Linked DNA regions of Homo sapiens: region 2 is linked to region 1. Evidence: fine-mapped expression QTL. A gene starts in region 1. The other region holds a variant in brackets. All regions are shown on one strand. Distances are between the middles of the regions. Region 1 holds the start of ZNF432 (zinc finger protein 432). Region 2 overlaps ZNF615 (zinc finger protein 615).

Region 1 (5,388 bases):
GGAGTCTCTGAGGAACCGTGTAATAAACAGCAGTAAGAAATCTTCTGCCTTTATTAGAAAGCTAGTTCAAAACACTGTTCACCATATCACCTCTGGGAAGAATAGCAAATTTTTCTTGAGATCTAAGTGCCATGAAATAATAATCTCCTGAGGAACCTGTCTGCTTTCTCCCCACAGTCACTGTATAACTTAGTGTGACTTTCTTGTACTGGCTGTCAGAGACATCAGATGCAAACTGAGAGCTAAGGTAATGGAAAGGATCTTCTAGTCAGGCATTATTTTCCAACATCAGTCATTTTGTAGGAATCACATAAACACTATATTCCTGATCTTACTTTGCCATGATGTTGGAGTTAGATTTAAAGTTTATTTCTCTCTAGATTCTGAAATGATTTCTTACGGGTCTCTACAAATCCACTATGGAATAAAGGAGAGAATAAAATAGAGAAAAAGTCACCTGGGCATTGATCATTTTCTTCTGTTGTGGGAAATGGCCAGCACCTGGGATACTCTGTCTTTGTCTCCTCTGGATCTGCCTTAAATTTCTATTTAGAAACTTCAGTCACCAGTGAAGGGTGTCCACAGAAATCATATCTAGGTCCTGGAATCTTCCTCTTTCTTCATTTACTTCTTGTCTCTTCCCAGGGTAGCCAGGACCTGTGGACTGAAGAGCAAAACAACTTTCAGGGGTACATTCACCTTAACACGTGGCCCTGAATATTTGTCTCTTTATTTGGTTCTCTCAAACCAAGGAAACACAAGACCCTCAATGTAGGCCAAATGCCTTTCTTCGGTGAAGTGTGGAAGTAACATGAAGATGAAAGGGGAGGTCACAAAGGAGAATCCACATAGCATCATGCCTAAGCAGTAGGTAATTCTCATATCAGTTTTTTAAATCAGGCCATATGGATGGTGAGAAACTACATTTTTTCCTTTATACAATGTTACTCTCACACCTCTTTAAAAGTCTTTATATATATTTAAAAGTGTTTATATACGGCCAGGCATGATGGCTTACACCTGTAATCCCAGCACTTTGGGAGGCCGAGATGGGCAGATCACCTGAGGTCAGGAGTTCGAGACCAGCCTTGTCAACATGGTGAAACACTGTCTCTACTAAAAATAGAAAAAATTAGCCAGGCATGGTGGCAGGCACCTGTAATCCCAGCTACTCGGAGACTGAGGCAGGAGAATGGCTTGAACGCAGGAGGCGAAGTTTGCAGTGAGCCCAGCCATTGCACTCAAGCCTGGGCGACAAAAGCAAGACTCCATCTCAAAAAAAAAAAAAAAATGTTTATATACACACTTCAATATGAAGAACAAGAAACACATAGAAAAAAAGAGGGAGACAGAGAAAAGGAATACGAGTTATAAATACAAATTTAGAAAACAATTCAAAAATATAAATACTGGGAAAATAGCCGCCTTTATATACTAACATACAAAACCTGAAACACCCATAAAAATATGCAGTACATTTGCAAGAGGAAGGATAAAAATAGGCTCTTGTTAATTTGTGCGCAGTAATTTAAAAACATAATGTTAAATAGAAAGCCTATTCATCCGCCCCCCTTCACCCCCAAAAAACTTTCATTTTCTGCAGGTTCAAGAGCATGGGTTGTTGTGGAAAGCCAGAGGATTAGAAAACTCATTGTGGAGGAGGTACTCGGACCTGAAACTTTTAGGAAATGTTAACGTTCATCAAGTCTGTTCCAGCCAAAGTTTGAGCTCAACACACACACACACACACACACACACACACACACACACACACACACACACACACAAAACCAGCCAGGGCTCTTGTGAAAAGACTTCGGCTTTCACTTGTCTCTAGACAAAAGACCACCACCCCGCCAGATAAAATAGGAAAACCTGGAATAGACACACACGTACACTGGATTCCCTTAATGATTCATCAATCACTAAGCCTCAGATTAATCCAGAATGTGAAACAGAAGTCACATTCGTTGACAAAAGCCACCCCATCGATTCTCAATCACTGAGCCCCACTGGGGAGTGACCCGCGAGGACCACAATCCCTGACCTCAGTACTCTTGGTCGTTGATCTATTCAGGCCTTTAATCACTGACCACCAGAGCCTCCATGAGGGACCCCAAAGATATCCTATCACAGACACCCACCAGGGACTCCTACCAGCTCCCCTCCAAAAGGAAACACCCGCCCCCGCCTCCCCCAACCCCCGCGCTACCTCCACCATATAGCGCCACCAACAACGCAGACGCCCTCAGAAAGCTCCCTCCCACCACGTTTCCACGCCCTGACCCACACACTGACCTGACTCTCCTTGGAATCGCCGCGACCTCTTAAAAGCTGAACTTACTTCCCTAAACTTCTTCCACTTCTGGGCCCCTCGCCCAACTCCCTCCCCCTCTAAACCTCCAGAGACGGTCAGCCGCGTTTCCATGGAGAGCGGAATGCGGCCTTCCGGCTTTTCCTCAGGAGGAGACGCGTCCGCGCCGGCGTCGCCTCGCCGCTCTGGGGGCGGCCATCTTTGAGTACGTGACGTACAGAAGGCACAGCGGCCGGGAGACGCGGTGGACGGAGGCCTCTTAAACTGTCCGATTTCCAGACACCTCAGCCCTGGCAGAAAATGGAGAGCTTATCAGAGGCTTGAGTTCACACAGGCAGACACGGCGTGGGGGTAAAGTCCTCTGAACAGACACGGAACAGAAATAAGTTAGTCTTCTCCTCGCAGGGGACAGTGAACGGCGCAAACTTCTCAAAGGCCAGAACCCATTATTACCACAAAGGCGCGGCATCCCTTCTTAGCGGTTATGATGGCTGTGACGTCTCAGCTCAATGGAAAATTAAAGTCACCTCTGGGCACCTCAGTCACTATTGTAAATGCGAAGCGTTTTAGAAGCCGTATAAAAACTGAAGCAAGAGAGACTAGAACAAAAAATAAGCGAGCGGTGCGTTGCAGGTAACGGAGCCAGAGCCCTTAGGGGAGAGCATCATGGGGGCGGCCATCTTAGGGGACGTTCGGTGTCCGTACGGCAGAACATATTCTCTCTGAGAAGCTTGCGGTGGAACTGGCCCATGGAAATGTCTTTAGAAGAGAAGAACCACCTGGCTCTGTTCTTGACTCTGGAAAAGAATCCTTTTCTAGAATTATTTAGGTTGTTGCCAGATTAATTTCCTTTAGAGAGTTTCCTTGCCCCCACGACTTCCTATCTTTAAAGCCAACAATAGTATGTGAAATCCCTTTCATATTTGAAACCACTGACTATTGCTGCTGCATCTCTCCGGTTTCTCCTATTCTTAAGTGCTTGGGCAATCCAGAATAATCTCCCAATGCTAAAGTCAGCTGATTAATAAACTTAATTACAATGCAGAGTCCTTTTTGCCATGTAACATAACCATGGGAATTACTCTGGGGTTGTAGATCTGGCTATGATATGATGACACTAATGAATATTTTGCAATAAAAACATACTATTTTAAAATATATATATACATATATCTTTATATATGTATATTTCTACAGAATTATTACAAGTTATGTCTTATGATGGTTTCTTATAAGAAGCAAGGAGGAAAAGGTCCTTAACATTTTCAATTGTGTTTTTTTTAATAATAAAGCATGCATTCTAATTTACAAAAACCACAATAAAGGTACTTTCATCATGTCAGTCTTGAGGCTGAACAACACTTAACATTCTTTTTCCTTTTACCTGTCTGCCTTCTCCCTTCCCCTACACTCTCTATACCCCACCCTCCAGGCTCTCTGTTCCATCATCTTATGCGTATGGCCCCTTTCCCCTGTGCCCTCTTATTACTTCCATCTATCACGCAGACACACACTGTCACTCCCCTAAACACTCTAGTGTTAAACAATTGCTGCTGATTGTTTTTTGACAAGTGCCCTATGGGTAGGAGTGTTCACATAAATAAAGTCAAGCCAAATAGAGAAATACTATGAGAATAGACCTATTCAGCAGGCTGCAAAGCAGGCTTAGTAGTGAACATTCTGTGGGGATGGAGGCTTTTGGGTGTTTCAGAGCCATTTCTGCCATTTTCAGAGCCATTTCTACCTCCTCAAGTGCAGATATTCTGCTAGGGTGCAGATATTCACTGTTACTGTTGTTAAAAGGTGGTTGCTTTTCAAGGCTACCTTGAAGCTGAGGATATGGGGATAGGATTAGGGCAAGCTAAATACCACAAGCTCACTGTGGCCGGCATTGTAGACTTAATTGGCCATTCTAGAAGAGGAACTAACTGGCTTCTAGCCAGGGCCTAAAAACTAGATCTAGATAGCCAAAAAGATTACATTAAACTTCCTCTAGTGTCCCATCTATCAGATTCCAATCCTGAAGGACCAAGTCAATCTCTCTTCTATTTCATCTCCTTTCTCCCATCTTATAAAAGATCTTTGGAAAACTCTGTTTATTTCATATATAACAGAGCTGATATTTGTATGTTTTGTGGAGATGATGTTTCATCATGTTGCCCAGGCTGGTCTTGAACTTTTGGGCTCAAGCAATCCTCCCACCTCGACCTTCCAAAGTGCCAGGATTACAGGCATAAGCCACCATGCCTGTCTTAACATTTAATCTTTTCAAATTACTTCACTATGTATTCTTTTTTGTTGTTGTTCTTTTTTTCTGTTTACTTCACTGTGTATTCTAAGCACAAATAAGAAATTCTTATTTCCTAATTATTGTTTATTTCCATATATATAATATATTTTTTTAATAAGTTTTTTTTTAGACTGCATCTCACTCTGTCACCCAGGTTGGTGCGCAGTGGTGCAATCTCAGCTCACTGCAAACTCTGTCTCCCGGGTTCAAGCAATTCTTCTGCCTCAGCCTCCCAAATAGCTGGGATTACAGGTGTACCACCACACCCAGCTAATTTTTGTATTTTTAGTACAGACATGGTTTCACCATGTTGTTCATGCTGGTCTCAAACTTCTGAACTCATGTGATCCACCTGCCTTGGCCTCCGAAAGTGCTGGGATTACAGGAATGAGCTCCAACACCTGGCCCATTTCCTAATATTTGTATACACTTGCTATATTTTTATTTTTACCACACATAAAAATCAAGGCAAATGCAAGCCATGGATCTTATACATACAAAGGCATGTAGAACTATAATCATATAGTGAATATTCATGCATACTGAGGCAGGTTTTTAGATGCTCAGAGTCTGAAATTGCACTGCATGGTATTTCCATAAAATGTCCTGGGGCATACTCGGACAGAATAGCTCAAGTGCAAATTATAAGCATATATTCCCCAAATTGTATCCTGTTTGAATTCATCAAAGTTGAAATGAAGGAAAAAATAATAAGGGCAGCTGTGGGGAAAAGAAAGAGAGATCAGACTGTTAACTTGTCTATGTAGAAAGAAGTAGACAAAAG
Region 2 (5,388 bases), 46 kb before region 1:
GGACTCCAAGAGGAAGAAGGGAGGAAGGCAAGGGTTGAAGAACCACCTATTTGGTACTATGTTCACTACTTGGGTGACAGGATTGAGCTTCTAGTGAATCCTCGGCATCAGGCAATATATCCATGAGACAAACCTGCATATGCACCTCCTGATGCACCTCCTGAATCTAAAATAAAAACATAAAAGATAAAATAAAATTAAAAAAATAAAATTATATAAGGATAGCCAAAAGCATTATTCTTAGAGGGAAGATGATTCTTGTTCCTCATACACAAAATGGGAAGTTACAGGCTAGTTGTCATGAAGACAAGTAAAATACATGGAAATAAAGTATACATTAGATAATATTAAGGCAGAAGTTAATTTGGTAGTCTCTTCCAGAGAATGAAGAGTTAATTCACGGGAATGAAAAAAACTTTTAAAAGTTATGAGAACAGTAAAGAAAATGGAAGAAGGATGGGCTGGGCACGGAGGCTCACGCTGTAATCCCAGCACTTTGGGAGGCCAAGGCTGACAGATTACTTGAGCCAAGGAGTTCAAGACCAGCCTAGGCAACATGACAAAACCCCACCTCTATAAGAAATACAAAAATCAGCTGAGCATGGTGATGTGTGCCTGTAGTCCCAGCCACTTAAGAGGCTGAGGTGGGAGGATCGCTTGAGCCGAGGAGGTCAAGGCTACAGTGAGCCTGGGTGACAGATGAGACCTTCTTTCCAAAAAAAAAAAGTATGGAGAAACTCAGGATTCAGTATAAGAGGAATAAGAGAACTTAAGAAACACATAAATGCCAATCAGAGACCAGGTTATCATGGGCACAGCATCCAGAGTGGAGAAAATGAGGGAAAATAATGATTCCCAGAGTGGGAATAATGAAGGAAAATTATTATTTTCCTACTAGGGCAGGAAGATGCAGTAGTCAGAAAAAAGTAATGAGTTCAAAGGTCTCTCTTTCCGGAGAGGCCTGGAAAATGGAATTTCATAGCAAGAGAGGTAATACACAAGCAGAGACACTGTGACAGTGGACAAGAAAAGGCAGATTTGAAAATCCTAAGAAGATAATTATGTAGACAAAAACAAGATGTGCATAAAATAAACAAAGATGAAATCTCAAGGAAAAAAAGTGGGGGCCGGGCGCAGTGGCTCAAGCCTGTAATCTCAGCACTTTGGGAGGCCAAGGTGGGCAGATCACAAGGTCAAGAGATCAAGACCATCCTGGCCAATATGGTGAAACCCCGTTTCTACTAAAAATACAAAAATTAGCTGGGCGTGGTGGTACGCACCTGTAGTCCCAGCTACTCAGGAGGCTGAGGCAGGAGAATCCCTTGAACCCGGGAGGCGGAGGTTGCAGTGAGCCAAGATTGCGCTACTGCTCTCCAGCCTGGTGACAGAGCAAGACTCCATCTCAAAAAAAAAAAAAAAAAAAGAAAAGAAAGTGGGGCATATTTTCCATACTATAACAAAAAAGAGCTCTTCCTTGGGAAGAAGGAGTGATGGAGGGGCTGTTGCTGTGTCCTCAGATGCCCTCACTGCTTTGACGCCTGCTCTGTGTGGGCAGAACATGGTGTCTGTGGCTGTCCACCTGGCTGCTCCTCTCACTCACCAGAACAGATTCGAGAGTAGATTTCATCTTCTGTTGTGCAAGTTTCTTCTCCTCGTTCCAATTTGGAGAGTGCATCTGGTTTGCTGGCTTGATACCCTGTTCATGGGAAATGACAGAAGATTTAGACAAATCAAACGGGGCTGGCAATATTGAAAAAGGAGAGTTACATTTTAAGGACTACATAGGTATCAGATCTGTAACAAGAAGGTAGATTATACTCTCTTGTGTGGGGCAAGAGAATGATGTGAGAATCTACCACTTCAGAGTACTGCAGGTAAGCAGCTGAGAAAGGAAGGCCACTGACTGGGCACCCTCTGAGTGACACAGGGCAGCTGTCCTCACCCACTGCCACCAGGTTGCTGTAGTTCTCCAACATCACGTCCCGGTACAGGTCCTTCTGAGCAGGGCTCAGGAACTGCCACTCCTCCCAGGTGAAGTCCACAGCCACATCCTCCAGTGTTAGGGATTCCTGTAATAACACACTTCTGTTTAATGAAGTCATATTCTTTTGGTGATAGGAAAAGAATGTCAAGGAAGTCATTCCGCTCATTTTCACCACATAGGAAGCTGGTGGGGTTTTTTTCTTAGTACATTTTGACAGAATAAGAATTCCAGTAAAATATTCTGTAACTGTGCGGTCATCCATTCATTCAACAATGTTGAAAAGTCAAAGAAATGTCTGTAATACACAGCTATCCAATCCTCTTGCTAATGAAAGAACATCTATAACATGTAGCATCTATTTCCCAATACCAAACTAGTCATAAGTATATGCCAGTTACAAGTAGACGAATAATTCAGATTCTTAAATTCACTATGAGCTTTCAGGCCAATATCAAACTCTGTAATGAAGACATGGCAGATGCTAGTATCACAAGACAATGCATTCTAAATAACTATGGTTAACATAGTTAACCATATTATTATTTTATTCTGAATGAAATAAAAGAGACTATATAAAACATGTATAAAGCACAAAGATTATTAGATGATTAAACAAATCTGTTTTTTTGCTTGCTT[G/GT]TTTTTTTTTTTGAGATGGAGTCTTGCTCTGTTGCCCAGGCTGGAGTGCAGTGGCACAATCTCGGCTCACTGCAACTTCTGCCTCCCGGGTTCAAGCAATTCTCCTGCCTCAGCCTCCCTAGTAGCTGGGATTACAGGCGCACGCCACCACACCTGGCTAATTTTTGTATTTTTAGTAGAGATGAGGTTTCACCACGTTGGCCAGGCTGGTCTCACACTCCTGACCTCAGGTGATCCACCCGCCTTGGCCTTCCAAAGTGCTGGGATTACAGGTGTGAGCCACAGCGCCTGGCCATGATTAAGCAAATTTGGAAAAAAAAATCCTTAGAATATATATGCAGACACATGTATGCACACAGACAAATTCATATATATGTGTATGTTATTAGACAGCGTTAATAACATTAAATACAATGAAGAAACAGCTAAAAGAAATCTACTTTTGCATTTATGAGAAGGCTACAGTTAAGAACACCACCTACCATAACACCTCCGTGAAGAACTATCAAAGATGTATTTGAGCCTCAGAATTATAAGCCATGAAACATTAACATCCCTCAAGAAACTGGTCTGCTTTCTCACAGTTGATATAACTTATCATGTTTCTCTTGTATAGCTTGTCAGAGATACTAGAGGCAAGTTTACAGCAAATGTAACCTACGGGGTCCCACACAGTCACAAATTCCAACATGAATCATGTAGTATGAATCCTATGAATAATATATCCCTGATCCTTCTTTGCCCAGATTTCTCCAGGTCCTGATATTTCCAATTTATACTTTTCTGATTAATTACCCTGATTTTTACAGGACTTTAAAAATACATTGGAGAATAAAGGAAAGAATAAAACAAACCAAAAGTCACCTGGGCCTGCATCATTGTCTCCTAAATTTGGGAAATGACTGCTAACTTGGACGTTCTGTATTTGTCTCTTCTGAATCAGCTCTAAATTTCGGTTCAAAAACTTCAATCTCCAATCAAGGATGTCCCCAGAAATGATGACACCCAAGTCTTGGAAACTCCGCCTCCTTCCTTCACTTGATTTCTCTTGTTCTCAGCACCTGTGGGCTGAAGAGCAAATTACTCTGAGTGGTACATTCTTTTTAGGCCCAGATGTTGTCACTGTTCCTATATGCTCACCTTAAATCAAGGCCCCCAAATATCTCTCTGTTCTTTTATTTAGTGCTCCAGAAGCTTTTATATCTGGGCTAGTAAAATATAACATTCTGAATATATGGGAGGTACAGCACCCTTCTATATAAAGTTGACGTGGTATGACTACTGCTAGTAAGTGAAAGAGAATGTGGGGAAAAGAATCGTCACAACGTGATGCCCAGCAGCTGGGCAATCCTCAGGCAGACCAGTTTTAGGAAAGAGGTCACATAGACAGTTAAGATGCACACATTTTTTCTTTAAAACCATGTGTACCCATCTACCTTTTCAGAGGTCTTTTTACATTCTAGGATACTGCAATCTGAGAACACTGTCCTAAGCAAATAATAAGCACTATCTTATTTAAATTATTCATTACCATCCACATCTTTGACTTTTTTTCTTTTTTTTTTGAGACTGAGTTTCACTCACTCTGTTGCCCAGGCTGGAGTGAGTAAGACTCCAGTGGCGTGATCTCTGTTCACTGCAACCTCCATCTCCTGGGTTCAAGCGATTCTCCTGCTTCAGCCGCCTGAGAAGCTGGGATTACAGGTGAACGCCACATGCGCTGCTAATTTTTGTACTTTTAGTAGAAACGGGGTTTCACCATGTTGGCCAGGCTGGTCTTGAACTCCTGAGCTCAACTGATCCACCCATCTCAGCCTCCCAAAGTGCTGGGACTACAGGCATGAGCCACTGCACCCGGCCGCCATCCACATCTTGATACTTGCAAAGTATTCTAAGTATAAATGTATAAAGGATACTCAGCAAAAATATCCTTGAGGAATTACATATTACAGCAAATCCTAACGGATATTCTTCAAGCAAAAGAAAGATGACTCCAGTGTAAGCAGAGGAGCAAGGTCTGAAGAGGAACAAAACGGTAAGTAATTAATAAAGCCTAAATCAGTATTGACTGGAAAAATAATACTGATAATAATATATCAGGAAGTTTTAATATATATAGTGTTAAAATATTCCATAAGAACATATAGGCCGGGTGCGGTGGCTCACGCCTGTAATCCCAACACTTTGGGAGGCCGAGGTGGGCAGATCACGAGGTCAGGAGTTCGAGATCAGCCTGACCAACATGGTGAAACCCCGTCTCTACTAAAAATACAAAAATTAGCTGGGCATGGTAGCGCGTGCCTATAATCCCAGCTACTCAGGAGGCTGAGGCAGGAGAATTGCTTGAACCCAGGAAGCGGAGGGTGCAGTGAGCCAAGATTGTGCCATTGCACTCCAGCCTGGGTGACAGAGTGAGATTCTATCTCAAAACAACAACAACAAAAAAGAACATATAAAGTAGGAGGATGGCAAATGAAAACGTATTTTAAGATATCTGCATAGCAGAAGAGTATAAAATACTAATTACCATAACATTAACAAATAAGTTTATATGTTGTTTGTAATCAATAGTGTCAGCAATAAAACTAATTTTTAAAAAATTATTTCCATGTTAAAAGAGAGGTCTATGGTTTCCGTGGCAGCTACTCAACTCTACTGTTGTAGCTCAAAAATGCCCACATACAAAAAAATAGACAAATGATTGTGGCCAGGTCCCAACAAAACTTTATTAACAGAAACAGGTGCTGGGAGATTTAGTCCATGGGCTC

Evidence for each region. PIP is the estimated chance that this variant, and not a neighbour inherited with it, causes the effect.
Region 2: its variant is the best candidate, but not a certain one, in a credible set for the expression of ZNF432 in whole blood (INTERVAL, PIP 0.83).

The regions. Positions count from the first base shown.
Region 1 is chr19:52,046,397-52,051,784 of GRCh38, forward strand. ZNF432 (zinc finger protein 432) reads right to left here and starts at 2,442. Exons shown (of 5, transcript NM_014650.4): 1 at 2,299-2,442; 2 at 458-664. The coding sequence starts at 472. RefSeq lists an enhancer at 2,225-2,814.
Region 2 is chr19:52,000,213-52,005,600 of GRCh38, forward strand. It overlaps ZNF615 (zinc finger protein 615), which reads right to left. Exons shown (of 7, transcript NM_001199324.2): 3 at 3,485-3,688; 4 at 1,943-2,069; 5 at 1,601-1,696; 6 at 134-166. The coding sequence starts at 3,499. Among named protein-coding and RNA genes, the nearest start is that of ZNF615, 5.3 kb to the right of the region's middle. The variant G/GT (reference allele first, on the strand shown) is at 2,621.